Linked DNA regions of Homo sapiens. The gene in region 1 interacts genetically with each later gene. Each region holds a gene or a part of one and is shown in the gene's direction. Other genes may lie near its edges.

What was found.
Region 2: changes in ETAA1 (region 1) and VRK1 are lethal when combined (synthetic lethality), as found in Homo sapiens cells (one large-scale study listed by BioGRID).
Region 3: changes in ETAA1 (region 1) and SLAIN2 are lethal when combined (synthetic lethality), as found in Homo sapiens cells (one large-scale study listed by BioGRID).
Region 4: changes in ETAA1 (region 1) and MCM10 are lethal when combined (synthetic lethality), as found in Homo sapiens cells (one large-scale study listed by BioGRID).
Region 5: changes in ETAA1 (region 1) and CFAP52 are lethal when combined (synthetic lethality), as found in Homo sapiens cells (one large-scale study listed by BioGRID).
Region 6: changes in ETAA1 (region 1) and KIF2C are lethal when combined (synthetic lethality), as found in Homo sapiens cells (one large-scale study listed by BioGRID).
Region 7: changes in ETAA1 (region 1) and LEPR are lethal when combined (synthetic lethality), as found in Homo sapiens cells (one large-scale study listed by BioGRID).

Annotation. Positions count from the first base shown.
Region 1 is NC_000002.12:67,403,577-67,407,833, forward strand, and holds part of ETAA1 (ewing's tumor-associated antigen 1), read left to right. Parts: coding exon 1-1,759; intron 1,760-4,257. UniProt on the Homo sapiens protein: Replication stress response protein that accumulates at DNA damage sites and promotes replication fork progression and integrity.
Region 2 is NC_000014.9:96,848,917-96,853,173, forward strand, and holds part of VRK1 (serine/threonine-protein kinase VRK1), read left to right. Parts: intron 1-3,914; coding exon 3,915-4,023; intron 4,024-4,157; coding exon 4,158-4,250; intron 4,251-4,257. UniProt on the Homo sapiens protein: Serine/threonine kinase involved in the regulation of key cellular processes including the cell cycle, nuclear condensation, transcription regulation, and DNA damage response.
Region 3 is NC_000004.12:48,413,988-48,418,244, forward strand, and holds part of SLAIN2 (SLAIN motif-containing protein 2), read left to right. Parts: intron 1-4,257.
Region 4 is NC_000010.11:13,191,989-13,196,245, forward strand, and holds part of MCM10 (protein MCM10 homolog), read left to right. Parts: intron 1-266; coding exon 267-377; intron 378-462; coding exon 463-580; intron 581-3,052; coding exon 3,053-3,281; intron 3,282-4,257. UniProt on the Homo sapiens protein: Acts as a replication initiation factor that brings together the MCM2-7 helicase and the DNA polymerase alpha/primase complex in order to initiate DNA replication. Additionally, plays a role in preventing DNA damage during replication.
Region 5 is NC_000017.11:9,638,876-9,643,132, forward strand, and holds part of CFAP52 (cilia- and flagella-associated protein 52), read left to right. Parts: intron 1-2,848; coding exon 2,849-2,960; intron 2,961-4,147; coding exon 4,148-4,257. UniProt on the Homo sapiens protein: Microtubule inner protein (MIP) part of the dynein-decorated doublet microtubules (DMTs) in cilia axoneme. Important for proper ciliary and flagellar beating. May act in cooperation with CFAP45 and axonemal dynein subunit DNAH11.
Region 6 is NC_000001.11:44,759,965-44,764,221, forward strand, and holds part of KIF2C (kinesin-like protein KIF2C), read left to right. Parts: intron 1-315; coding exon 316-520; intron 521-627; coding exon 628-738; intron 739-1,951; coding exon 1,952-2,019; intron 2,020-2,070; exon of another isoform or gene 2,071-2,143; intron 2,144-2,381; coding exon 2,382-2,487; intron 2,488-2,580; coding exon 2,581-2,694; intron 2,695-4,257. UniProt on the Homo sapiens protein: In complex with KIF18B, constitutes the major microtubule plus-end depolymerizing activity in mitotic cells. Regulates the turnover of microtubules at the kinetochore and functions in chromosome segregation during mitosis.
Region 7 is NC_000001.11:65,601,963-65,606,219, forward strand, and holds part of LEPR (leptin receptor isoform 1 precursor), read left to right. Parts: intron 1-3,075; coding exon 3,076-3,275; intron 3,276-4,257. UniProt on the Homo sapiens protein: Receptor for hormone LEP/leptin. On ligand binding, mediates LEP central and peripheral effects through the activation of different signaling pathways such as JAK2/STAT3 and MAPK cascade/FOS.

The DNA of each region.
Region 1 (4,257 bases):
CAAGAACTGCCAGAGGCTTTTTGGAGCACCAGTAATACTACCTTTGTAAAGACAAATGCTTTGAAAGAGGAGAAAATCATTACTAATGAAACTCTGGTCATTGAAAAACTGTCAAATAAAACCCCACGATCACTTTCTTCTCAAGTAGATACACCCATAATGACAAAATCATGTGTGACTTCCTGTACTAAGGAGCCAGAAACTTCTAATAAGTACATTGATGCATTTACTACAAGTGATTTTGAGGATGATTGGGAAAACTTACTAGGTAGTGAACCTTTTGCTATGCAAAATATCGACATGCCTGAACTCTTTCCTTCTAAAACAGCCCATGTTACTGATCAAAAGGAAATTTGTACCTTTAATAGTAAAACTGTTAAAAATACGTCAAGAGCAAATACAAGTCCAGATGCCAGGTTAGGAGATTCAAAAGTATTACAAGATCTTTCTTCAAAGACATATGACAGAGAATTAATAGATGCAGAATATAGATTTTCACCAAATTCAAATAAATCAAACAAATTATCCACTGGAAATAAAATGAAATTTGAGAACTCTTCCAATAAAATTGTTATTCAAGACGAAATTCAAAATTGTATAGTTACATCTAATCTGACAAAAATAAAGGAAGATATTCTTACTAACTCTACTGAAGCTTCTGAAAGGAAGTCAGCTTTGAACACAAGGTATTCTAATGAACAGAAAAATAAGTGCATTTTAAATCAGTCTATTAAAGCCCCTGTTAATACTGATCTTTTTGGCTCTGCAAATCTAGGCAGTAAAACCAGTGTTAGTAACCCAAATCAGACTAGTGCATCAAAAGTAGGTTCTTTCTTTGATGATTGGAATGATCCCTCATTTGCCAATGAAATTATTAAAGCATGTCATCAATTAGATAATACCTGGGAAGCAGATGATGTAGATGATGATTTGTTGTACCAAGCATGTGATGATATTGAAAGACTAACTCAGCAACAAGACATTAGAAAGGACAGTAAGACATCAGAAAGTATATGTGAGATCAATAATAATTCCGAACATGGAGCCAAACTAACTCAGCAACAAGACATTAGAAAGGACAGTAAGACATCAGAAAGTATATGTGAGATCAATAATAATTCCGAACATGGAGCCAAAAACATGTTTGCTATATCTAAACAAGGAAGTAATTTGGTACAATCAAAGCATTTGAATCCAGGCAGCATTTCAGTGCAGACATCTTTGACAAATAGCTCACAAATAGATAAGCCAATGAAGATGGAGAAAGGGGAAATGTATGGAAATTCTCCAAGATTTTTAGGTGCCACAAATTTGACTATGTATTCTAAGATCTCAAACTGTCAGATAAATAATCTGCATGTGTCTTATACTAACACTGATGTTCCAATACAAGTGAATAGTTCCAAATTGGTTCTTCCAGGAAGTTCAAGTTTGAATGTAACTTCAGATCATATGAATACAGAAATTACTACTTATAAGAAGAAATTGAGTACTAATCAGCCATGCCATAAGACTGTAACAGATGAAGCTCAGAGCAACCTTAACACAACAGTTGGATTTTCAAAGTTTACATTTACAAGGATGAAAAATTCTCAGATTCTTTCTCAGTTTAATCAAAATTGTATAACTGGAAGTATGTCTGATACCAAAATTACACAGGGTGTGGAGAAAAAGAAAGGTGTCAACCCATTACTGGAGGAAGCTGTTGGACAGCAATCTTTGGTGAAACTTTCTGAATCTTTGAAACAATCTTCAAAAGGTATGTATGAAATATGAAATAGTTTTCTTTGAAAAGCATCTTAAAAAGTAGTAAAATAATTATTTGTTGTTTTTGAGTGTGAGTAATGTATAAGGTAAAACTATTCTATGACTAGTTAATTTTAAGAATTAACTAGAATTCTTAAAATGATACTTGGAAATAATTATACGGCATTATACAGAGTAGTTGGTTTATTTTTCAAAATATTACATTGAATTCTTTCCCAGCACTTAATACAATGACTGGCATATAGTAGGTACTCAGTAAATATTTTTTGAATAACTTATTCTTTCTTGGAAAATCATACCTTTAGATATATGTATTATAGTGTTCATTAAGATTGTATTTACTAAATTGTTTTAAAACTTGAGTAATCTGGGAAGCAGATGATGAAGCAGTGAGGTAAATAATATTTAGAAATTTAGAGCATTCTAATTAAACGTCTTTACTAGTGTGATATTTGATATAAACGTGCTAGCGGTGATGGTTAAAATTATGATTTACTTATTTGATAACAGCTATCATTTCTGATTCTTCCAATTTCTCTTTTCCCCAAGTCTCCATTCTATCAATAAGTTTCATTCTTTCAAAAACCGTATCCCCAGACTCCATTTTTCTTTCTACAACAAGTTAACATTTCTTGATGAGACTACTGCAGTTCTTTTATCTATCTCCTTTCAATTCTTATCTCCAAACAGTGGAATAGCCTTTTAAAATTGGATGGGCAAAAATGGCGTTTCTATGCTTAAAACAACCTTCAATGGCTGCCCGTCATATTTCAAATAAAATCCAAACTGTATACTGTGACCAACAAAGCTGTGGATTATCTCTCTTTAACCTGCGTCTCCTCTTTTTTCCTTACCTACTAAGCTTCAGCTATACCAGCTATCTTTTAGTTTTTCAAACAGTGTATGTTTTTCTTCCTTGTCCAGGAACTTAGACCGTGCTCTTCCCTTTGACTAAAACTACTTCTTTTCAACATGTGACCCCTTCCCCACTCTTTTGTTGGTGCTTTCTTACATCTCAGTATAAGTACTACTTTCTCACAGAGGCCTTCCTTGAAGAGTCTATAAATAGATCTCCTTGTTTATTTTTTATTTCCTAATTGCTTTCATCACAAGTTGAAATTAAATATTTAGTGACTCTTCTCTGTCTTGTTGGCATTACTGTTCCAACTTTCCTATCTAAGTGACTTTTTTTAAAAATTTACAATAGTAATATGCTAGTTATTTAAAAAGAAAAGTAAAACAGTATAGAATAATTTAAAGGAAAAAGTTAAGTCTTCTGTTTCTCCTTTCTGATAACCATCCCTTACGGAAAACCACTATTAATAGTTGGTATGATGTAGCATTTTCTATGAATATAAAAAGATATGTGTGTGTGTATGTACGTATATATGTGTATGCATATATATATACCTATAGATCTATTTAAATATTAATAAATCTGTATACCCACTATTTGGCAACTTGCTTTTGCCTTAATATATTATAGCTGTCTTTTCCTATTAGTACATATAAATTTATTTTAGTCCTGTTAATGACTATGTGATATATATGGTGGATGTATCATAATTTAACTGTTTCTCTGTGATGGAAGTTTGGGTTGGTTGCAGTCTTTTGCAATTACAAACAATACTCCAGTAAATATCCTTCTGCATAAATTTCCGCATGCTTGTATAATTGTATCTGTTAATTCCTAAAAAATTGCTACAAGAGGAAGTTTTAAAATTTGATGGATACCACCAAATTTCTATCCGAAGCAGTTATACCAATTTATCTTATCAAAACTTACAGTAAATAATTCTCTACACCCAAGGGTGTCCAATCTTTTGGCTTCCCTGGGCCACATTGGAAGAATTATCTTGGATCACACATAAGATACACTGACACTAACAACAGCTGATGAACTAAAAAAAAAAAAAAAAAAAATCACAAAAGAATCTCATAATGTTGTAAAAAAGTTTATGAATTTGTGTTGGGCTGCATTCAAAGCCATCCTGGGCTGCGGGTAGCTTGCGGGCTGCGGGTTGGACAAGCTTGCTTTACATGATAGCCCAAACTAGATATTTTGAAATATTAAAAATTGTTCTCAATCTATAATAATTTTAAGTATTTAAATTTGTATTAAAGTGAGCATATTGTAACTAAATCAAGCATGTTCCTAGCATGACTTTATTTACAGATAGAGTTGACCCTTGAACAGTGTGGGGGTTAGAGGCGCTGATCTGATTTGCAGTCGAAAGTCTGTGTATAACTTTTGATCCCCTAAAAACTTAACTGCTAATAGCCTGCTGTTGACCAGAAACCTTTCCGATAACATAATTAATTAATACATATTTTGTATGCTCTTATATGTATTATATACTGTATTCTTACAATAAGCTGGAAAAGTGTTATTAAGAAAATAAGGAAGAGAAAATAATATTTACTATTCATTAAGTGAAAGTGGATCATCATAAAGGTCTTCATCCTCATGATCTTCATGTCTAGTAGGCC
Region 2 (4,257 bases), on another chromosome or scaffold:
GAGGCAGAACAGCATCTTAAGTGGGAGATGAACGTGAGCACAGGCAGGATAGACTTTTATTCTACTGTATGACCCAATGGCCGTCTTCCTGTAGCAGAGGAAGAGGGCATGTGTGTAAGAGAGAAGGAAATAAACTTGGAGAAGGAGTCGGTGGCAGATAATGAAGACCCATAGAGGAAAGAACAGTTTGGAACCCATGTATAGTAGGTAGTCAGAAGCTATCACTTGCTCTTGAGCAAGGGATGAGGTGACATGGTGGTGAAAGTGGCATTTGGGAAATGGCTTACATGGTGAATTAAAGACTGTCTAAAGGGGAGTAAGACAAGAAAAACCCTTAGTGATGACTTGCTAGGAAGCAAATCTGTTTGACTGTGTGCTCCAGTATACAATAGTTATATTCCTAAGGAACAGTACATTATGAAAACCACATTTCATAGAGATGATTGGAAGAAAAGTGTACCTGGGGCTAGAGCATTTTTAGACTTGGAATAACAGCCTTTTCCTCTTTCCATAATTTGAGTATAAACGTCTTAAAAAAAAAAAACCAAGCACGGTATATTGCAGCAAAACCTAAACACCAAACAAATCTAGCACTAGATTGATTGTACTTGACTCCATCAGGTGTGGTCATGGGCTAGTTAACTTTCTGTCTCTCTTGTTTCCCTATGTGTGAGATGAGGATAATAGTGCTTACTTTATGAATTACTGTGAAGATGAATTGAAAACATGTAAATTGTAAGGGGCACAGAGTAAGTGCTGAGGAAATGTTTCTTGCAGTCATCATCACTGTGATTATCATAATTGGTTTCATTTGTTTGTCTATGATTTTTGTTTGTCAGTGGTGGTATGTTGCTTGAGAATGATGGTCTTTTTAAAAGTAGCCCACACTGTCATATCACATTTTACCATATACATTCTTATCACCCATTTTATGATAAAGTTCAGAACCAGTTAAACAGGGCTTTTGTTTGTGTGACTCCTGTGAGGTGACCAGGGACTAAGTGGGTCCAAGGTTGACTCTGTAAGCTGACTGACTTGGGCACTGCTGGAAAGAACTTCCCTGGTGTGGATCAGAAGTGCCTTAGAGTGTGGTGACAAATGAGAACACAGTCTAAGTCTTAACTCACCACTTACTAGTGATGACTTTACCTCCCAGCCCATTTCTTCTATAAAATGAGGTTGCTAGAAATGTCTCCTTTAAAAAGATGGCATTAGTCATATATCAGGCATTGATTTACTTTTTAGGTTGAAGCTCTTAAAAAGAATCATTATAGGTCTTAGAAAGTAAAGAAATAGAAAGTAGATTATTCTTCCAGCCCCCTTCCATGCCAGACATGCTTAGTTTTCCTTGTAACTCATTTGAATTAATATGTATGTAGGGCTTAGAGCAATGTTAGCTGCTACCATTATTAAATTATTTTACACTGATTTATATTTTTCTTTTACTTGCACATTTTATCCAAGTCTCCAGAAAAGTATACATCAAAGGTTTTACTTTAGAGGAGTTACTTAGAAATAGCTTTCATTTTACTACTCAATGGTAGAGCCGTCTTTCCAGAAGAATGTGGTAATGGTTTCTGTGAAATTTGTGGAATCATGTTTCAGTTGATGTTTATGATTTAGGTATGGTGACAAGATTAAGGTCTTATTAAGAGTAGTGGTAGGGTGATTTGTGAATAAAAACAAAGACCTATGTAACAGAATTTATTAATAGACCCCATGTTGAATTAAGCAGTTGTGTTTTAGCCACCTTTCAGGCTGTTACAGAGGTTGTATTTTTGTTACCTGTGTATTACAGGTTAAGTATGCCTTATCTGAAATGTTGGCACCAGAAGTATTTTAGATTTGGGATTTCTTAAGGATTTTGGAATATTTGCGTTAATACCTACTGGTTGAGCATCCCAAATCTGAAAATGGGAAATCCAAAATGCTCCAGTGAGCATTTCCTTTGAACATCTTGTTGGCACTAAAAACACTTTCTAATTTTGGAGCACTTCTGATTTCAGATTTTCAGATTTGAGATGCTCATCCTATGTTATAATCATTACACACATCACCTATTTAGTAAAAGCCAACATGTATATGTGCCCTGGTCTCATCTCTCAACCTTGCAAAATCTGTTACACAAAGGAAACCAGGAAGTCAAAGTTACCATTTTCACTTTATTATCTTACAAGCCAAGGTGCTAGGAAATCTTACATGAATGAATATATTTTGTCACAAATTTTTTTTTTTTTTTAATTGAGGTGGAGTTTGCTCTTGTCGTGCAGCTGGAGTGCAGTGGCTCAATCTTGGCTCACTGCAATCTCCGCCTCCCAGGTTCAAGCAATTCTCCTGCCTTAGCCTCCCGAGTTGCTGGAATTACAGGTTCCTGCCACCGTGCCCGGCTAATTTTTGTGTTTTTAGTAGAGACGGGGTTTCACCATGTTGGCCAGGCTGGTCTCGAACTGCTGACCTCAGGTGATCCACCAGCCTTGGCCTCCCAAAGTGCTGAGATTACTGGCGTGAACTACCAGGCCCGGCCACCACTGACTAATTTTATAACCTTGGACAAATCACTTTACCTCCAAAGACCTTAGTTATTTTATTTATTAAAAGATGTTTAGACAAGATGATTTTCTAATTTTCTTCCAGTTCAAAAATGAATAGAATTCTGAGTTACTTGTTCAACATCTTGTCTTTTAATGTTAGTCAACTCTTCCTTCCCTATTGAACTTGTCATATTGTTATCATAGAAGCCTATAACATATAAATGGGATTTTTGTATCCTACTGACATTTATTTCAGTTAATATGTAGTACAGGGGTTAAAAGCATGATTTTGCCACATACTAGAGGACAAATTATCAGTTTTCTTCTGCTGTAAAATGGGTATGATAGGAGTTACCTACTTTATAGAGTGATGTGAGGTTTAAATGCATTAATAACGTTTTAAGTACTTACAGTAGTGCTGTGTGCATACCAGGTGTTCAGTAAATGCTAGATGTTATGGTGTTGATGATTCATAATCTTCCTCATTGGAGATGTCCTGATACATTCTGAGTGTGGTTTTGATTTTTATTGATTTACTGAATGATTTCACCAGACAAGTTAGAATCTGGAAAACTATTGAAGATAAAAGTGGTCCTCAGAGCAGAAGCTAAGCAGTGTTATTGCAAATAGGTGATGCTTTTCTGTACATACTGAAATATAACGTGATTATTGAATCTGAGTTTTGGGTGTTGAAAGTGACCTTAGAAAGGGTGAGTCCCTGCTCTCTCATTTTACTTCTGTGGAAATTGAGGCCCAGGAAGTAATGTGACTCAGCCAAGGTGACATAGCTGCTTTATGCAAAGCCAGTTATCTTCATGTTTTTTCAGGATATTTGTTTTTCCCCAAATCTTGGCCATTGAGTGTTTAATGTACAATCCTTTTACGCCATTTAAACAATGGTATTGAATCTGGCTTTTGTTAAAGCATCTCACGAGAATCTTGATTTTAGCAGAATGTTGTTACTGCTGAAATATACCTTAAAAATAAGGAGAAACAGTCACAGGAAGGAAGCTGATATCCAGAAACATGAATTAATTTTAACTATGAGAAAAATCAATGCTGTCATTTTTATTCAGCTTGTTTTATTTTTACCGTGAATAAACTTGTTGGGTTCTCTCTGTGAGCATTATCTTAAATTGAATAGTCTCTTGAAACTAGCTGCGACCAGGAAGAGGCCCTCCAGGTAAAAAGCAGGACCTGAAAGCACTCTGAACTCTTTGAGATTTCTAGTTGGGAGAAATTGTTTCAAATGTTTGTATTTCTTTTTTAAAGAATACTTCTTTACTAAACATTGTCTTGAAAAAATTACTTTGAGAGTACTCATTACAAAGTTGGTTTTCTTGCATTGTATTTTGTTCATTGGCTTTTCATATTTGTCTTCAGTTACAGGTTTATGATAATGGATCGCTTTGGGAGTGACCTTCAGAAAATATATGAAGCAAATGCCAAAAGGTTTTCTCGGAAAACTGTCTTGCAGCTAAGCTTAAGAATTGTATGTGAGCTATGTTCTTCTTGTTTTTAAAAAATTGTTTTGAGTACAGTAAAGGCTAGTTTATGTTGAAGCTTGGTCCTCTGCTGGCTGGTGTTAGGTACTGCATTAACTTATTCTGTATGATACTTTCATAGCTGGATATTCTGGAATATATTCACGAGCATGAGTATGTGCATGGAGATATCAAGGCCTCAAATCTTCTTCTGAACTACAAGAATCCTGACCAGGTAGTTT
Region 3 (4,257 bases), on another chromosome or scaffold:
CTTAGCACAATTATTAAATACTTATTAAAAGAAAAAATATTTTAAGATACGAATTCTCTATTACCCATCATCCTAATTTGGAGATAACTTAGACACCAAGGTTAGGATTCTTAGTCATGTCATTTTTATAAATAGAGTTCTAATTTTTGCTCAGAGCAGATAGATCTCCTTCACATTATGCCTGACTCGAGTGTAATTCTTGGTATTCAAAAAGAGTAAAGAGAAATTATAACTTGTCAATATCAATTTGGGTAATACATTTTGGGTAATAACTTAATATTTACATTTGAGTTAATTTATAGGGAAAGCCTAGGAGACTGTTCTGAGTGGCATTGTTGAATATCCATCTAGGAAATTCATGTGTAGCAGACTAAAGGAGGCCTGTTCTTTAGATAAGAAAGCCACAGATAAGAATGCCTTACAATTTGTTTAATATTTTACATTTTACTAACAATTTACACATTTATTACTCGTTTGCTCTTCACAGCAAACTTATATTGGCTCAGATTTATTAGATTTATATGTAAGTGGTTTTCTTTTCAAGCAATGCAATTGGTGTGGTATTTTTTTTTTTTTTTTTTTTATTATACTCTAAGTTTTAGGGTACATGTGCACATTGTGCAGGTTAGTTACATATGTATACATGTGCCATGCTGGTGCGCTGCACCCACTAATGTGTCATCTAGCATTAGGTATATCTCCCAATGCTATCCCTCCCCCCTCCCCCGACCCCACCACAGTCCCCAGAGTGTGATATTCCCCTTCCTGTGTCCATGTGATCTCATTGTTCAATTCCCACCTATGAGTGAGAATATGCGGTGTTTGGTTTTTTGTTCTTGCGATAGTTTACTGAGAATGATGGTTTCCAATTTCATCCATGTCCCTACAAAGGATATGAACTCATCATTTTTTATGGCTGCATAGTATTCCATGGTGTATATGTGCCACATTTTCTTAATCCAGTCTATCATTGTTGGACATTTGGGTTGGTTCCAAGTCTTTGCTATTGTGAATAGTGCCGCAATAAACATACGTGTGCATGTGTCTTTATAGCAGCATGATTTATAGTCCTTTGGGTATATACCCAGTAATGGGATGGCTGGGTCAAATGGTATTTCTAGTTCTAGATCCCTGAGGAATCGCCACACTGACTTCCACAATGGTTGAACTAGTTTACAGTCCCACCAACAGTGTAAAAGTGTTCCTATTTCTCCACATCCTCTCCAGCACCTGTTGTTTCCTGACTTTTTAATGATAGCCATTCTAACTGGTGTGAGATGATATCTCATAGTGGTTTTGATTTGCATTTCTCTGATGGCCAGTGATGATGAGCATTTCTTCATGTGTTTTTTGGCTGCATAAATGTCTTCTTTTGAGAAGTGTCTGTTCATATCCTTCACCCACTTTTTGATGGGGTTGTTTGTTTTTTTCTTGTAAATTTGTTTGAGTTCATTGTAGATTCTGGATATTAGCCCTTTGTCAGATGAGTAGGTTGCGAAAATTTTCTCCCATGTTGTAGGTTGCCTGTTCACTCTGATGGTAGTTTCTTTTGCTGTGCAGAAGCTCTTTAGTTTCATTAGATCCCATTTGTCAATTTTGGCTTTTGTTGCCATTGCTTTTGGTGTTTTGGACATGAAGTCCTTGCCCACGCCTGTGTCCTGAATGGTAATGCCTAGGTTTTCTTCTAGGGTTTTTATGGTTTTAGGTCTAACGTTTAAATCTTTAATCCATCTTGAATTGATTTTTGTATAAGGTGTAAGGAAGGGATCCAGTTTCAGCTTTCTACATATGGCTAGCCAGTTTTCCCAGCACCATTTATTAAATAGGGAATCCTTTCCCCATTGCTTGTTTTTCTCAGGTTTGTCAAAGATCAGATAGTTGTAGATATGCGGCATTATTTCTGAGGGCTCTGTTCTGTTCCATTGATCTATATCTCTGTTTTGGTACCAGTAGCATGCTGTTTTGGTTACTGTAGCCTTGTAGTATAGTTTGAAGTCAGGTAGTGTGATGCCTCCAGCTTTGTTCTTTTGGCTTAGGATTGACTTGGCGATGCGGGCTCTTTTTTGGTTCCATATGAACTTTAAGGTAGTTTTTTCCAATTCTGTGAAGAAAGTCATTGGTAGCTTGATGGGGATGGCATTGAATCTGTAAATTACCTTGGGCAGTATGGCCATTTTCACGATATTGATTCTTCCTACCCATGAGCATGGAATGTTCTTCCATTTGTTTGTGTCCTCTTTTATTTCCTTGAGCAGTGGTTTGTAGTTCTCCTTGAAGAGGTCCTTCACATCCCTTGTAAGTTGGATTCCTAGGTATTTTATTCTCTTTGAAGCAATTGTGAATGGGAGTTCACCCATGATTTGGCTCTCTGTTTGTCTGTTGTTGGTGTATAAGAATGCTTGTGATTTTTGTACATTGATTTTGTATCCTGAGACTTTGCTGAAGTTGCTTATCAGCTTAAGGAGATTTTGGGCTGAGACGATGGGGTTTTCTAGATAAACAATCATGTCGTCTGCAAACAGGGACAATTTGACTTCCTCTTTTCCTAATTGAATACCCTTTATTTCCTTCTCCTGCCTGATTGCCCTGGCCAGAACTTCCAACACTATGTTGAATAGGAGCGGTGAGAGAGGGCATCCCTGTCTTGTGCCAGTTTTCAAACTATCTCTCAGACCACAGTGCAATCAAACTAGAACTCAGGATTAAAAATCTCACTCAAAGCCGCTCAACTACATGGAAACTGAACAACCTGCTCCTGAATGACTACTGGGTACATAACGAAATGAAGGCAGAAATAAAGATGTTCTTTGAAACCAACGAGAACAAAGACACCACATACCAGAATCTCTGGGACGCATTCAAAGCAGTGTGTAGAGGGAAATTTATAGCACTAAATGCCTACAAGAGAAAGCAGGAAAGATCCAAAATTGACACCCTAACATCACAATTAAAAGAACTAGAAAAGCAAGAGCAAACACATTCAAAAGCTAGCAGAAGGCAAGAAATAACTAAAATCAGAGCAGAACTGAAGGAAATAGAGACACAAAAAACCCTTCAAAAAATCAATGAATCCAGGAGCTGGTTTTTTGAAAGGATCAACAAAATTGATAGACCGCTAGCAAGACTAATAAAAAAAGAGAGAAGAATCAAATAGACACAATAAAAAATGATAAAGGGGATATCACCACCGATCCCACAGAAATACAAACTACCATCAGAGAATACTACAAACACCTCTACGCAAATAAACTAGAAAATCTAGAAGAAATGGATAAATTCCTCGACACATACACTCTCCCAAGACTAAACCAGGAAGAAGTTGAATCTCTGAATAGACCAATAACAGGCTCTGAAATTGTGGCAATAATCAATAGTTTACCAACCAAAAAGAGTCCAGGACCAGATGGATTCACAGCCGAATTCTACCAGAGGTACAAGGAGGAACTGGTACCATTCCTTCTGAAACTATTCCAATCAATAGAAAAAGAGGGAATCCTCCCTAACTGATTTTATGAGGCCAGCATCATTCTGATACCAAAGCCGGGCAGAGACACAACCAAAAAAGAGAATTTTAGACCAATATCCTTGATGAACATTGATGCAAAAATCCTCAATAAAATACTGGCAAACCGAATCCAGCAGCACATCAAAAAGCTTACCCACCATGATCAAGTGGGCTTCATCCCTGGGATGCAAGGCTGGTTCAATATACGCAAATCAATAAATGTAATCCAGCATATAAACAGAGCCAAAGACAAAAACCACATGATTATCTCAATAGATGCAGAAAAAGCCTTTGACAAAATTCAACAACCCTTCATGCTAAAAACTCTCAATAAATTAGGTATTGATGGGATGTATTTCAAAATAATAAGAGCTATCTATGGTGTGGTATTTTTAATCTTGATTTCTAATGTTCGTTGCTGGCATATAGAAACATAGTCAGTGTTTGTATTTTTATCCAGTTCTGTGACCTTACTGAATTCACTTATTATTTCTAGAAGTGTGTGTGTGTGTAGATTCATTGGGATTTTCTGTGTAGACAACCATGGGGACAGTTTCTAACCTCTGTGCCTTTTATTATTATTTCTTCTTCTTCTTCTTCCTCTTCCTCCTCTTCCTCCCTCCTTCCTCCTTCTTTCTCCTTCCTCCTTCTTTCTCCTTCCTTCTCCCTCTTCTTCTTTTTTTTTTTTCTTGTTTATTGCACTGGCTAGAATTAGTGGTAAGAGCGTATGTTCTTGTCTTGTTCCTGGTCTT
Region 4 (4,257 bases), on another chromosome or scaffold:
TATTCCAGAAACAGGGTATGGAATGACCCCCAGATTTAAGGGCTTAATATTCTAATCATTACTAGAAATAAAATATAGTCGAGATACCCTGCCATCCTATGAGTCTGATGATAGAGGTTAAGGATTCTTTTCTTTCCTCTTGGGATTCCGTCTTCTTCGTTTACGTATGACTAAAATTACAAGTGCAGAGTTTAGAAAGTGGTATGTCATATGACCTCAAACCATCTGAATGTGAATCCTCTAAAGCTGGTGTTGACCTGGCACAGGAATACCCCAGAAGAGCCTGTCTTGCTCTGAGGAGTTCAAGGAACTGATGGACCTGCCGACGTGTGGAGCCAGGAACTTAAAACAACATTTAGCCAAAGCCACAGCTTCAGGTACCATCAGCTGCATGGCCACACGTGTGTCCCTGTGTTCCCTCAGCCTCCCAGGGCACCCCCTCAGTCTGGGCTTCTGTTTCAGGGATTATGGGGAGCCCAAAACCAGCCATCAAGTCCATCTCGGCCTCAGCACTCTTGAAGCAACAGAAGCAGCGGATGTTGGAGATGAGGAGAAGGAAATCAGAAGAAATACAGAAGCGGTAAGAGGAGCAGATTTAATATTCCCCGCTTGGGTCATCCATCTCAGGCGTCCTCAGAACGTCTTCATCGATTTCCAGAATGTGACTTCAGGTTTCGGTTGGCTGCGTTTTAACTCTGAAAGTTTAAAATAGTTTTCCCATAACCTGAATAGCATTTAAGGCTGTATTATTTCTTACACTGGTGACTCCCAACACCAAATGGTACAGGTTAGAGTCGTTATCACCATGGAAAAGGGAAAGGAGTGAAGTGTATGTAAAGAGGGTTTTTGTGAAGGGGGAGAGCGTAGGTTCACATGCTGGCTGTCATTTTCTCTCTCTCTCTCTTTTTTTTTTCTGAGACGGGTTTTCACTCTGTCACCCCAGCTGAAGTGCAATGCTGCAGTGTCGGCTCACTGCAACCTCCATGTCCCAGGCTCAAATGATCCTCCTGCCTTGGCCTCCCAAGTAGTTGGGACTACAGGCATGTGCCACTATGCTTGGCTAATTTTTGTATTTTTTTATAGAGACTGGGTTTTGCCATATTGCCCAAGCTGGTCTCAAATTCCTGGACGCAAGCCTGGATTTGCCTGGCTGCCATTTCTGGGTTTTGCCGCAATTCAGTTTTTTATGACAGGCAGAGCCAGTGAGTAGAATACAGTTCTTTGGATAAAGGACAAAACTGAAGCACTAAAAATGGAGAGTCATTTTAGAGGCAAAAGCAAGTGGAAATGTGTTACTTGGCTTCAGCCAATAATTAAAAAAAAAAAAAATCAAGTGGAAATGCATAGGGTAGGTGGACAAATGAATGATTCCTGAACTCAGGTCACCTGAATACTAATGAGAGCTGCGGTTCACAGGCACTTCATACGTACTCCATAAACACAGTATCTGAGCCTCCGGAGGCTTCTCAGCCTTGTTTTACTAATAGTGTGCCTGGAGATCAGAGAGCTAGTTTATGGTGGGGCCGAGTTTTGGGCTCACACATGTTGTGCTCTGGTGCTGAACCTTTTGCCATCCCGAATCTGGGCTGCTGAAAGGCAACCACATCCATGAAAGGGAGTCAATGATAAGACAAGAGGAAATTCTTTGGGAAAGTAAGAGAATGGGTTTGGTCTCAGGCAGATTAGTTTGAAGTGCCGGTGGGATATCTATAGAGCTATTCATCTTGAGCCTACAGATGACATAAATTATATACGTGGACACAGAAATATGTATGGAGTTGGGGGCCTCGTGGGAAATAGAGAATGCCCATCAGCTTGAAGGCATTGCGTAATGAAAATTTTCAGAATTTTGTTGGCCAAGGAAACCTTATCTTTGCGTAGGATTTGATAGGCAGTTTGCAAACACAGCCTAGAGCTTGCAAGAGTGGCTGTGCGGTTGGGAAGAGTACTGCTCTGGGATGGCCTGGCTCTAATCCTGAGTCTGGCCCTTGTGAGTAATGTGATCCTAGGCCTCAGTTTCTTCATCGATCAAATGAGAAGTTTGGACTAGATGATTTCTGGGGTTTGTTATTTGTTTTTAAATATCTCTTATGAGGCTGGCTTGGTGGCTTATGTCTGTAATCCTAGCACTTTGGGAGGCCGAGGCAGGCAGATCGCCTGAGCCCAGGAGTTTGAGACCAACCTGAGCAAAATGGCGAAATCCTGTCTCTACAAACAGTACAAAGATTAGCTGGGCATGGTGGTGCACACTGTGGACCCAGCTACTCGGGAGGCTGAGGTGGGAGGATCACCTGAGCCTGGGAGGCAGAGGTGGCAGCGAGCCGCAATCGTGCCAACGCACTCTAGTCTGGGTGACAAAGCAAGACCCTGTCTCCAAAAACAAAAGTAAAATAGCTCTTAAAACTATTTTTTGCCAGGCATGATAGCTCACGCCTATAATCCCAACACTTGGGAGGCTGAGGCACGAGAATCACTTGAACCTGGGAGGCAGAGGTTGCAGTGAGCCAAGATCATGCCACTGCACTCCAGCCTGGGTGACACAGCGAGACTCTGTCTCAAAAAAATCAAAAAAAAGAAAGGGGATGTAAAATAATCGCTGCAAGTTACAGTGTTTTTCATTAATGACTTCCAAATGTCTCACATGTATTGTCTCTTCCCAGTAGCATAAACAAAGATGCAGGGAGGTGCAATGAGTTCCTACAGGCCCTAGAGCTGACGGTAGGGGTGGGAATACAGTTCACACCGCGTCTTCAGCTGTGTTCCTTGTGGATGACATCCACTGGACAGCCAATTGATAAAAACAGTTATCAGTTCTAAAGTGTTAGGACAATTACAGCTTATTCAAAGAAAACTCAATTAAGGAGGAGTTAGTAAAGCTAGTATTGTTCTTATCGTGTGCAAATTTGAATTACCAGCCTAGAAGGGGACATTATTTTGCTAACAACTAGCTCCCAACTGGTGGCCTGCCTGCCGCCTCCCAGTCCACTTTGAGTTCTAGAGTTTTTATTTTCGTAAACCCTGTTTGCGTATTTTGACTGTATGTTCTTTAAAGATTTCTGCAGAGCTCAAGTGAAGTTGAGAGCCCAGCTGTGCCATCTTCATCAAGACAGCCCCCTGCTCAGCCTCCACGGACAGGATCCGAGTTCCCCAGGCTGGAGGGAGCCCCGGCCACAATGACGCCCAAGCTGGGGCGAGGTGTCTTGGAAGGAGATGATGTTCTCTTTTATGATGAGTCACCACCACCAAGACCAAAACTGAGTGCTTTAGCAGAAGCCAAAAAGGTAACTGGCATCTCTTCTCTTTAGCACTTGAGTTTGCATTCTGTAGAGCAGAGCTGGAGGAAAGACAGACACCTAATAGCTCTTTATTGATCGTGATCATTAGAGTCAGTGTAATTTGAAAACATGGTAGTGTCAACATAATACTAAAAGAAAGTTAGATCTGTTATCTCAACACTTTTTCTTGTCAGGCTACAAGAGGTAGCCTAGAGGAAGATAGTGTTTTATAACCAGAGGCATTGACAGTAGGAAAACAATGCTTGGAATTGTTGAGGTGAGACTGTAAAATGGTGGTTTAAGGAATCCTTTTTTTACGTTTATTTATTTATTTATTTATTTATTTATTTATTTATTTATTTTTTGAGAAGGAGTCTCACTCTGTCACCCAGACTGGAGTGCAGTGGCGCAATCTCGGCTCACTGCAACCTCCTCCTCCCAGATTCAAGCGATTGTCCTGCTTCAGCCTCCCGAGTACCTGGGACTACAGGCGCCTACCACCACGCCCGGCTAATTTTTAGTAGAGACATGGTTTCACCATGTTGGCCAGGCTGGTCTCGAACTCCTGACCTCAAATGATCTGTCCACCTCGGCCTCCCAAAGTACTAGGATTATAGGTGTGAGCCACCATGCCTGGCGGTTTTATTTTTTATTTGTTGAGACAGACTATCCCCCTGTCACCCATGCTAGAGTGCAGTGGTGCAATTATGGTTCACTGCAGCCTCAACCTCCCAGGATCGATTCATCCACCTGCCTCAGCCTCCCAAGTAGTAGCTGGGACTGCAGGCACATGCCACCACGCCTTGGCTAATTTTTGTATTTTTTGTAGAGATGGGGGCCTCCCTTTGCTGCCCAAGCTGGTCTTGCACTCCTGGACTCAAGCAGTCCCACCTCAGCCTCCCAAAGTGCTGGGACTACAGGCATGAGCCACTGTGCCTAACCAAGAATCCTTTAAAAGAAATCTTACACAAAAGTCCAGTCC
Region 5 (4,257 bases), on another chromosome or scaffold:
CTTCACTTCCCCACCTGTTAAGTGGAAATGGTACCACTGACCTCATAGAGTAAGGATTAAAGTCATGCTTGCTCATGGTGCTTATAGCAGGGGGTCTGGCACATAGTAGGTACTCAATAGATTGGTTTTTATTATTAGGGAATTTCTGAGACTGGAGTAGAATTGCTGTGCCCAAACCGGTTATCACTTTGACTAAATTCAGACAGAAAGGCAATAGAGCTCCTCATCTCTCAGCACTGTACTTCATCAATACATTAAAAATCTACACACGGAGCCAAGCGTGGTGGCTGATGCCTGTAATTCCAGCACTTTGTGAGGCTGAGGCGGGTGGATCACCTGAGGTCAGGAGTTCGAGACCAGCCTAGCCAACATGGTGAAACCCCATCTCTACAAAAAATACAAAAAATTAGTAGGGTGTGGTAGCGGGTGCCTGTAATCTCAGCTACTCAAGAGGCTGAGGCATGAGAATTGCTTGAACCTGGGAAGTGGAGGTTGCGGCGAGCCAAGATTGCACCACTGCACTCCAGTCTGGGTGACAGAGCAAGACTCTCTCTTAAAAAAAAAAAAAAATTCTACATATGGTACAGATTTCCCAGCTAAAGAGGAAGGTGAAGGTTCATCCTTCTGTTTGGGGGAATGTTCACCCTTGGAGCAAGCAAGGGGTCCCTGCTCTCATGAACCTTACTTCCCTAATTTATTTTGGGTAGGAGGGGATGGAATTGGCTAATACACACATGAACCAATCCATGAATGGACAATGAATAACAAGTGAACAAGAGATGAGATGGTGAAAGGACTGAGAAAGGAGATAGAACTGGTGACATGATACTGGCGGGCGGGGGAAAGCTCCTTCAGCTGGGGTGGTGGGTGAAGGCCTCCTTAAGGAGCAGCATCTGAGTGAGGCCTGAATGACAGAAGGACTCAGTCAATGCCTAGACCTCAAGGAAGGGCATCTCTGGCAGAGGACACTCCAGTAAGATGGAGCCCTACTGGGGCTGCCCAGGAGAGTGTCAATTTGGCTTCTTTGGCTGGGAAGGCAGGCAGTCAAGTTCCAACTACTTCTGTGGGTGTGAATCCTGAGAAACATGGGTTCTGGCATGGTTTTCTATCTCTTTAGGCGTTTACTATGAAATCAGAACTTTTTTGTTAACATGATCAAGCATCAACAGACATTACAAAGCAAAAGAAAAAAATTAACAAGAAATAGTATGCATAATGTCTAGCTAGATTCAGAGGAATACAGACTCCTGGCAGAGTGACTGGAACACAGCACGTTTCCGACATGAAACAATGAGAAACAAATGAAATGCACGTGCAGGTTTGCACTCCTGATTCCTGGTCAAGCACTCTTTTTTTTTTTTTTTTTTTCAACTTTAAGTTCAGGGGTACATGTGCAGGATGTGCAGGTTTGTTCCATAGGTAAACATGTGCCGTGGTGGTTTGCTGTACGGATCATCCCATCACCTCGGTATTAAGCCCTGCATGCATTAGCTATTCTTCCTGATGCTCTTCCTCCCCCCACCCACCACCCCCCGACAGGTGCCCCAGAGTGTGTTGTTTCCCCACGTGTCCATCTCTTTTCATCCTTCAGCTTCCACTTGTAAGTGAGAACATGTGGTGTTTGGTTTTCTGTTCCTGCGTTAGTTTGCTGAGGATAATGGCTCCCAACTCCATCCATGTCCCGGCAAAGGACATGATCTTGTTCCTTTTCATGGCTGCATAGTATTCCGTGGTATATATCTGCCACATTTTCTTAAGTTTATTCTGTTTTTTTTGGAGACAGAGTCTCACTTTGTCACCCAGGCTGGAGTGCAGTGGCATAATCTCAGCTCACTGCAACCTCCTACAACTTTCACCTCCTGGGTACAAGTGATTCTCATGCCTCACCCTCCCAAGTAGCTGGCACTACAGGTGTGTGCCACCACATCCAGCTAATTTTTGTATTTTTAGTACAGACAGGGTTTCACCATATTGCCCAGGCTGGTCTCGCATTCCTGACCTCAAGCAACGGGCCCAACTCGGCTTCCCAAAGTGCTGGGATTATAGGTGTGAGCCGCTGCACCCAGCTGGCCGTATCGCATTTTCTTTATGCAGTCTATCATTGATGGGCATTTAGGTTGATTCCCTGTCTTTGCTATCATAAACAGAAGCATTCTTTCCTAAGAAGGAAATTTAAATCTTGAATAGATTGTGCATTCACAAAGTTTAAGGTACAAAGGCAGTATATTCAGGAAAAAAATCACCCTCCTTTAGGCACCTGTCTCTCCATCCCTAAGGTAGTTCTGCTCCCCAACAGGGAACCAAGGTTACCAGTTCCTCTTTAAACTCTACCCTGTGGAATATTTCAGTGCTTTGGAGCAGAAGGGAAAGTTGGGAATAAGGGTGGTGTGAGGAAGAGGGAGGGCGCAGTCCCAGTGGGAGGGTGCCTGTACAGCCCAGTCTCTAGAACTCTGGGGAGTGGGGAGTGCTCATCCCCCAGTGAGAAGGAAGAAAATGCTTTTCCTCCCTCCAGGCCTGAAGCTTAGCTGTGGATGCAGAGGCTGTTCTTTCTTTTACAGCTTGCTTCAGGCTGAATCTTCTTAGTCTTATCAAAAGCCCTTTCTGTCTTAATCCAGGTTTATCAGCACATCAACATGTCTTTAAATAGAATGCAAATTTAAAACCAATACTAAAAATATTAAAATGGTTTTGCCACCCCCTGCTGTAGCCTATTTATAATTTCAGCCAGTATCATCCCGTGGTGTATTTTTGCTCCCTTCTATATAAAGTAGAGCCATCTTTTGTTAGCATGTGCATGGATGACTCTCCTGAGCTGAGTCCTGCTTAATGCTTCTTTCCTGAATTCCAGATTGCTTACTGGGAAGTATTTGATGGGACAGTAATCAGAGAATTGGAAGGTTCCCTGTCTGGGTCGATAAATGGCATGGATATCACACAGGAAGGGGTGCACTTTGTCACAGGTTAGTCCTGGGATAGGAAAAAGCCAAGCCTGGCTTATTTAGACGAGGACATGGAAGGAACTCCCAGGCTAGAGGCAATTGGAAAAGACAACAAAAGGGTCTCAAGGCAACTTGGTTAGAATCAGATTCCAACCAATACTGCAGCCAATGTGGCTGAGAAAGAAAAATCCAGAAGTCACATTTCAATGAGAGGAAACATTTGCACAAGAGCCTTAAGAGCACAAATAAAAGCCAAGACTTAGATTGCTAGGCTTGCTATTTTTGGTGGGCATTGATAATAGAAATGGGGCCTTTAAATGGCCTGGGCTGTCCAGCATACTTCTAAAGTCTTAAAAGCCAGTCTTTTAATTCCACTTTATTATTGCATGATGCGATGCCCTTCCCACCAAAACAAATGAATTAACCAATATTTCAAAGGGGCATTTACCACACAACATGCCGATTGGAACATCATTATCATTTCCTGCCAAGCTCTTTGATTCATCAGGATATTAACAAATAAATGCGGCCAGGCGTGGTGGCTCATGCCTGTAATCCTAGCACTTTGGGAGGCCAAGGCAGGTGGATCACCTGGGGTCAGGAGTTTGAGACCAGCCTGGCCAACATGGTGAAACCCTGTGTCTACTAAAAACACAAAAATTAGCCGGGCGTGGTGGTGCACGCCTATAATCCCAGCTACTTGGGAGGCTGAGACAGGAGAATTGCTTGAGCCTGGGAGGCGGAGGCTGCAGTGAGCTGAGATCATGCCACTCCACTCCAGCCTGAGTGACAGACAGTCCGTCTCAATAAATAAATAAGTAAAAAATAAATAAATGCATGAAATGAATTAAGTTTCACAAGTACATTGACTACAAAGCAGGTATCAAACTAGACACAGTGTGATCCCAATCATATATATGATGTATATGTATACCAGTATACTTATAGAGAAAAGACTGGAAGGAACTAAGCCAAGATATTACTAGTGGTTATTTCTGGGTAGTGGGATGAAATGTGATTTTACCTCTTTGTATTTCCCCCTCCTCTTCAAATTTACTGCAACAGATAGATTTTTATAATCAAGTAAAAGTGTTATTATAAAGACAGATACATGGGGACCATGTTGAAAATGATCCAGTTATTTGAAATCAGGGCTGTTTCTCTCTCTCCTATTGCAGCAATGCCATATACGTGTTTATCTTTTTCAGGTGGAAATGACCATCTGGTCAAAGTTTGGGATTATAATGAGGGTGAAGTGACTCACGTTGGGGTGGGACACAGTGGCAACATCACACGCATCCGCATAAGTCCAGGAAAT
Region 6 (4,257 bases), on another chromosome or scaffold:
TTCATGACAGCTTCCCCCTTCCCTTTGGGCCCTTTAGCAGAGGGAATTTATCCTTCCCCGTGTCCTTCTAGGGCTCCAGGTCTGACAAAGGCCCTAGTCCAGAATCCAGTACTAATTTGGCTGCCAGGAAAATGTATTAGGTCCAGAGCTGGAGGGAGAATTGCTACCCAGGGAGGGCAAGATGGAAGCCTGGGACAGGAAAACAGGACTTTTTCGCCTCCTAACCTGTGTCCCTCCCTTCCTAGAGAACTTCTGTGGACTTGGGTGCCATGGGGGCTGGTGACCACAGAATCTCATAACCTTTCTTTACCACAGAACCTCTGGGCAGACATTTGCCAACTCCAATTCCTCCCGCTCCCACGCGTGCTTCCAAATTATTCTTCGAGCTAAAGGGAGAATGCATGGCAAGTTCTCTTTGGTAGATCTGGCAGGGAATGAGCGAGGCGCGGACACTTCCAGTGCTGACCGGCAGACCCGCATGGAGGGCGCAGAAATCAACAAGAGTCTCTTAGCCCTGAAGGTAGTGGGGCAGCTAGAGCTGGTTGGCCGGGAGAGCTACTGGGAAGGGATGGGGAGGGATCAGTGCAAGGAAAGAAGGGACCTCAGTTGTTCCTGCTGCCCCCACAGGAGTGCATCAGGGCCCTGGGACAGAACAAGGCTCACACCCCGTTCCGTGAGAGCAAGCTGACACAGGTGCTGAGGGACTCCTTCATTGGGGAGAACTCTAGGACTTGCATGGTGAGTAGGGTCACTTTGAAGGTGATGGTACAGGAGGAGACAGAGTTGCTTTCCACAGAGACACTTAGTCCTGTCCCTGGGCTGGAAGCTCAGCACTGCTGGCTGCCTGGGTTTCCAGGCTGTACCGTGACTGGGCTTCCAGACCCTGCTTTAATGCACGAGACTCCTTGTGGCCTAACCAAGCGTGGAGGAAAGGATCTATTCCCTTTAAGATGTGTAGGTGCAGCTCTTGGTTTGGGAGAGGTCATTCCTGCATTACCTGATGAAAAGGGGGTTCCAGAATTCGGAAGATGGGCCTTTGGGTCAGCAGGAGAGGGAAGTCCTTGTCTTTTCCATGGCCTCCCTCAGGTTCACTGGCTCCCAGCCTAGAAAATAGAAATAGCCTGGATCATAAGGCTGTGTCCTTGAATGACGTCCTCTTTCCTGTTTTATCCCCAAGCCCCTGTATGTGAGATCTGCCATCCTTCCCCTCAAGAGAATATTCTCCCCTACCCTTTGGGTAGGAGTCCTTTCATGAGGAAGGTGGGATTTTCTGACTAAGCTCTACCTAAGGCATTATCCTTTGGCCTAAGGGAACTGAAGTTTCCAGCAGAAGCCACAGAGCTTTAAGATAGGACCTTGGGCTGGGCGCGGTGGCTCACGCCTGTAATCCCAGCACTTTGGGAGGCCGAGAGGCAGGTGGATCACAAGGTCAGGAGATAGAGACCATCCTGGCTAACATGGTGAAACCCCATCTCTATTAAAAAATAAAAAAAATTAGCCAGGTGTGGTGGCAGGTGCCTGTAGTCCCAGCTACTCGGGAGGCTAAGGCAGGAGAATGGCGTGAACCTGGGAGGCAGAGCTTGCAGTGAGCTGAGATCGCACCACTGCACTCTGGTCTGGGCGACAGAGTGAGACTCCGTCTCAAAAAAAAAAAAGAAAAAAGAAAAAGATAGGACCTTGGTAGCAAGACTGTCTCAGTGAAGGAATAATGAAGCAAAAGATAATTAGATGTGTCTTTGAAAGCAGGAAACCAATGTCTGAGGCACCTTAATTTGCAGTGCCCATGGGGCAAGTGGCCTAGCACAGCGCGGTGCTAAATGACTCCTCCCACCAATACCATGTGGGTCTCCAAAGCTTGAAGAAACACCCTGACTGGAGGCCCCTCAGGGACAGGCTATATAGCATCCTCACCGTGCCTCTCAGCCTTTAATCACCCACCCCTCTTTTGCAGATTGCCACGATCTCACCAGGCATAAGCTCCTGTGAATATACTTTAAACACCCTGAGATATGCAGACAGGTACTAGTACCTACAGCTAGGTGGGATGCGGAACAGGACTGGGCAAGGGAAGGGCAGTGATGAGAGGGGAGGAGGCTCTGGGGCCTCAGGGCCTACTGTATACTCCTCTGTGACTCTGAACCTGAGGCTTGGGAGTTCCGCCGTGATGCTAGGTCTGTCCCAATCCTCTCCGGGCCCTGCTGGAGAGTCAGCTGGGTGAGGGGCTTTTCCAGTCCAGCTTTAGTTTTCTCTCTCCTTGGCTGAAGGCAAGGTTGCCATTCCATCCCCTTGGAGCCTCAAGCCTCGAAGCCTGGGCGGTGCCACATTCCTCTGGTGAGTACCAAGGGGGTGCTGTGGGATCTGAGACCTCCTTGTTTCCTCAGGGTCAAGGAGCTGAGCCCCCACAGTGGGCCCAGTGGAGAGCAGTTGATTCAAATGGAAACAGAAGAGATGGAAGCCTGCTCTAACGGGGCGCTGATTCCAGGCAATGTAAGGACCAGGATGCGGCCAAGCAAGACAGAAGTGTGGCCTGCTGAGGCGGCACCTGGGTCACATAATTGTCTTTCTTTTTGGCCCTCTCAGTTATCCAAGGAAGAGGAGGAACTGTCTTCCCAGATGTCCAGCTTTAACGAAGCCATGACTCAGATCAGGGAGCTGGAGGAGAAGGCTATGGAAGAGCTCAAGGAGATCATACAGGTAGGCAGCTGGCCCTGGACAGGGAGCTGGATGCAGCACGGCCCTCAGTATGCTCCACACCATTCCCAGAACATGACCTGGGCCTTGTTCCCACAGGTATTCACATAGCAAGAAGCAGCCCTCTACACCAGCACTCTTTAATTCTTTGCCTGTTAACCCAGCTGTTCTTCTAATTATCACAACCCCTTCTGCAGGTTGGCACACATAGGCTTTCTGACATCACACTAGCCAGAGCTAGTCTCTCCTCCACGCTCCTGATAGAGGATTTGAAGGGTGATCCATATGCAGGGATCTTGTCTTGTGTTTTGGTGAATGTTGCAACTCTTGTGCTGAATCCAAGGGCCAAAAAACATGAAGTATAGGTAATAGGCCCTAAGGGTATGACTTGAGATCAATCCTGTCTCTTCCATTCACAAACTGATTTCCTTGTGAAATTCATTTAGCCTCACTGGGCCTCAGTTTTTGCATCTCTGAAATGGTCAAGGTAGGATGGTTGTATTTGAGCGTTCAGTAATATGCTTATAAAGTGTCAGCACAGTACCCAGTGTGTGGTCAGGGTTCAGTAACTGGTAGGTGCCCCTGCTACTGTAATCCCTACTGTGGAAGAGCAAGTGACTGGGAGGCAGGAATTTACGTCCCAATGGTGGGGCGCTCAGAGGATTGCAGAGCAGGAAGGAAGAACTTGGGGCAGGTGTAACTGAGGAGGGACTGTGAAGGGTAAGTGCTCAGGCCTCTCCTCCCCTTCCTGGAGTGCTCAGGGGTACAGAGTTTTGTAAGCACATGGCACTTTCAGGATGAATGAGAGGCTCACCGTGGTCAGAGCAAAAGGAGTGAACAGGTGATGGAGGGTAGTTAAGGCTGTGGACAGGTCAACAGGGATCTGATGCTAGAGTCTTCTAGATGGTTCATCTCACAGGCCTGGACTGCATCATGAGGAAGCCTTTGGAGGGTGTTAAGCAGAGTGGTGACATGGGCATGTCAGAGCTTTAGATATATCATATGGCCACCATGTGGAGCCTGGTTTGGGGGCTTGAGAAAAGCAAAGGTAGAGGCAGTTAGGAGATTGTTGGAAAGGGTTCAAGAAAAACTATTGCCAGCCAGGCGCGGTGGCTCATGCCTGTAATCCCAACACGTTGGGAGGCCGAGGCGGGTGGATCATGAGGTCAGGAGTTCGAGACCAGCCTGGCCAACGTGGCGAAACCCCATGTCTACTAAATACAAAAAATTAGCCGAGTATGGTGGCGGGCGCCTGTAATCTCAGCTACTTGGGAGGCTGAGGCAGGAGAATTACTTGAACCAGGGAGGCAAAGGTTGTAGTGAGTCAAGATCGTGCCACTGCACTCTAGCCTGGGTGACAGAGCAAGACTCCATCTCAGAAAAAAAAAAAGAGAAACTAGTGCCTAGACCAAACTGTGTCCGTGTTCATGGGATTGGAATGAGGACATGAGATTCATGAACCATTTAGATATACAAGCATGAAAATCTTACAAGGTACCCCCCAAAATATGTACTCTCTCTCTATATATATATGTTTTTGAGACAGAGTCTCACTCGTCACCCAGG
Region 7 (4,257 bases), on another chromosome or scaffold:
ACGTATTATTTTTGCTGTTTTGTTTTTCTGTGGGCACAGTGAGATAAAAATTTTCTTTAGAAATATTACAACAGTAGTCTTACAGATTATTTGCTTCCTGAAAGAGGAAAGTATAATATAATGAATCAGGAAATTTTTGAGGGATTATATAAATTGGTGATTCTTGAAAAATATTCACACCTGAGATTAAAAAATTGTAATTTGTTTTTACTTCAAATTATCTTTTCTGAAAATCAATCAATTCTGAAAAATTTGTATTTTAACTCTTGAATGAAATGCAAGAAAATGTAGTTTATATATATTTTAATTTGACTTAGTTGACTAGAGGAGAATGTGAAAGATTATAAAAGTTTCGTATCATTTGGCTAAAGATTAATGTTTTGGAAAAAAGAGGTAAAAACAGATTATAAGAGATAATATGAATGGTTTTTAGAACTGAGTGAGATTACTTAGGAAATAAATACTTATGGTTAATAAAGGGTAATGTGTTCTAATGAGAAGTAATTTGTGCTTGTTTATTTTTACTCTTCTATGTTTTAAAAAGAATTCAAGGCATCGTCTTATAGTGGTCCCTTTCTTTCTAAAATCATTTTATCTAAAATGATACAACCCTTGATTATATAATAGATTTTTATTTTTAAAAATATCCCATAGTAGTAGTCAAGTAAATATATACTGCTGTTAAACACTGTGTCCCAATTTATATTTTTATTTGTAGTGGAGACTTTCAATTTGTATAACATGCTCATTTATTCTTAAAATATAAATTTTCAACTAGAAAAATAAATCCCTTCTCTCAAATACTGTGATCTGAAGTCTATTCCTAATGCTGCCAGTCTCTTCTTATGTAGCGTTAGGAAAAAAATGTGGCAATTCGTACATTTCTCAAATAGCTGCCTTCATCCTACCTAATATGAGTATTTTAAAATCAGTAGAATTGTTCATGATATGAAATTTTACTTTTATAATCTGTCTTTACATTCTTTTCATGGCATTTTCACATTAGAAAAGGTGTTTATGGAAAACTATTATGTTAAGCCCCATGCCTTGTTTCTCTTATTAACATTTACAGAATAACTATGAAACTACATTTACTTGGGTGAGTTTCTTAACTTCCCTAAGCCTCAATTTCCTTGTCTGTAAAACAGAGAGAATAATAGGACTTACAGTGTTTCTGCGAGAGTTAATGACATATTTCATCTAATTATAATCACATGGTATAATTTCTCCTTGTAAATATTCAATATATGGTTTTTGCTGTCATGATAATGATGCCAACTTTTCGATTTCAAGTGTACTAGTACTGTGCTTCTACTTTGTTCTTATTTTCTACCCCCAGATGACCCCTCACTCCTCATTTTCATTTTTGCCCACGCACCACCATTTATTCACACACACACACACACACACATTCATGATTGTAATTTTGAGAAGACAAGAAAAAGAAGTGGTATAGAAAATAGAAAATGACAGAAGAATATAGATTTTTTAGCTTCTTCTAACTTCCTCACTCCCATCTCTTTGGAAAGAGTAATTGCTACTTCAGCTATTTAAATATAGTATTCAGAGCAAACATTGGCCCAAGAGGTTATTTCAAAGAAGAGGAAAAAGACTTTATGTCAAGTTTGTCCAACCCATGGCCTGGGGCCCCCATGTGGACTAGGATAGCTTTGAATGCAGCCCAACACAAATTTATAAACTGTCTGAAAACATTAGGAGATTTTTTTTGCAACTGGTTTTTTTTTTTTTTTTTGATTCATCAGCTATCGTTAGTATATTTTATGTGTGGCCCAAGACAGTTCTTCTTCCAGTGTGGCCTAGGGAAGCCAAAAGATTGGACACCCCTGCTTTATGGGTTCTGAGGTGGAGTGTTGGCTAGGACTCACTTATAAAATTTTTTTTAAATTTTCTTTTCTGAGAAAATGAGGAATATACATGGTTATATAATTCACATACATATCTGAAATTGGTATTATATTAACTTATATTAATTTGAACTAGAAAATTATATTCACCACTCATTTGTGGTGAAATTTAATTCTTTCTTCAAAGTGTGAGGAATTTGCCTTCCTTGCCATCTCAGGAATGCTCCATGACTACTTTCATCTATATTTTAAATATTCTATCACTAATACATAATGTTTGTTTAATTTTCAAATTATTGTAGGTTCTGTCTCTAACTGGATCATTTTCTTCTTTTTAGAGTATTTATTTCATTTGCATCCCTGCTTAGTGTCTAATGAAATATTTAATAAGAGTTACTGTCAGTTTCTGTGGAAAGATATAGAATTGGGAAAAATTAAAAAATGCCTTTCTAATAAGAATGTCTTTTTTTAGATGGAGTGAAATTGTCTGTATTTTATTTATTTTAATTTAATTTAATTTAATTTTATTTTGTTTTTGAGACAGTCTCCCTCTGTCGCCCAGGCTGCAGTGCAGTGGTACCATCTCCGTTCACTGCAACCTCCGCCTCCCCAGTTCAAGCGATTCTCCTGCCTCAGCCTCCCTAGTAGCCAGGACTACAGATGTGCATTTGTAGAGACAGGGTTTCCCCATGTTGCCCAGGCTGGTCTGGAACTCCTGGGCTCAAGTGATCAGCCCGCCTCAGCCTCCCAAAGTGCTGGGATTACAGGCATGAGCCACCGCACCGGGCCTTCTGCCTGTCTTTTAAACTTGGGGTCCCCAGTCCCTGGGCCACGGACCGGTACCTGTCTGTGGCCTCTTAGGAACCCGGCCACAAAGCGGGAGGTGAGAGAGCAGCATTACCACCTGCGCTCCACCTCCTGTCAGATCAGCGCAGCATTAGATTCTTAGAGGAGCAGAACCCTATTGTGAACTGGGCATGCGCTCCTCATGAGAATCTAATGCCTGGTGATCTGAAGTGGAACAGTTTCATCCCGAAATCCTGAACCATCTCCCATCCCCCATTAGTGGAAAAATTGTCTTCCATGAAACCGGTCCCTGGTGCCAAAAAGGTTGGGGACTGCTGTTTTAAACAACAAATCAGAATTCTCAGATATCTTCTTGTTGCTTTTATTAATGTATACTAATTGACTATTTTTGTATCTTTTAAAGGAGCAGCCTTTACTGTTCTGATATTCCATCTATTCATCCCATATCTGAGCCCAAAGATTGCTATTTGCAGAGTGATGGTTTTTATGAATGCATTTTCCAGCCAATCTTCCTATTATCTGGCTACACAATGTGGATTAGGATCAATCACTCTCTAGGTTCACTTGACTCTCCACCAACATGTGTCCTTCCTGATTCTGTGGGTATGTCAAGCTGCGTTGTGTCTTCATTTGTGTTAGCAGATTTGTATGCAGATTGATGCAGATTTAATGTTATATTTTGCCATTTTCTGATCACATTAGATTTTGAAAAAAAAATTGTTCCTGTTTACAGTGGTATTGAGAAAATCAGCCTTAGGAAGTTTTACAGTTTTGAATTCATTTCAAATTATTTATAGCAGACTTTTTTTAGCAATAGGAATATTTTCTGCACACTATTAGATGAAATACATGGGTCATTATGAATGAATTTTAGTAGTGTTTTTCTAAATAAGGCATTATTTTATGTTTTTGTTCCAATGTAGTTATGAAAACATGTAATATTTGTAATCCAAACGTTTAATTTGAATATTCTGAGGTTCTCAATAATCTGAGTACTCATAACTCAAGCCTTTAATTTGTGAGGCTATGTAGGGCACAGAAGCATTTAAAATAGCTAAATTGAAGTGGAGGAAATAGACAACAATGACATACATTATATTTTAAACATTCTTTTCAAAAAACTTTTGATTTCAAAGATATTAAGAGAGCCCTTGGAAAATGTGATATATTCTTTCCGGTTCATTGTGAAATCTCTGAGAAATGATTGTGCAACAGGAATGCAAAAATATCTTTTGGTGCTGTTACATATGTATAACTAAGGAAGCTTTTGTAGATCTTTTCTAAATGTTTGTTTTCAAGATAAGATGTCTAAAAACAAAACAAAAATGGGATTTTCAGTGAATTTTCCCCTCAAATAAAATATTCCTCAGTAGGAAACATGTTAGAATAATGTTCCATAAAAATATTAATATATACTATTTTGTTGGGGGATTATGTCAAAAATCAATATTTGAGTCATTATTTTTCAATTAATTAATACACATTTGAATTAAAACCTATAACCAAAAAATACACGATAAGATTGTCTTAATTATAAGATTTCTTTTTCAATGTAAAGTCCCAATGAATTCTCTCCCCACTGTTT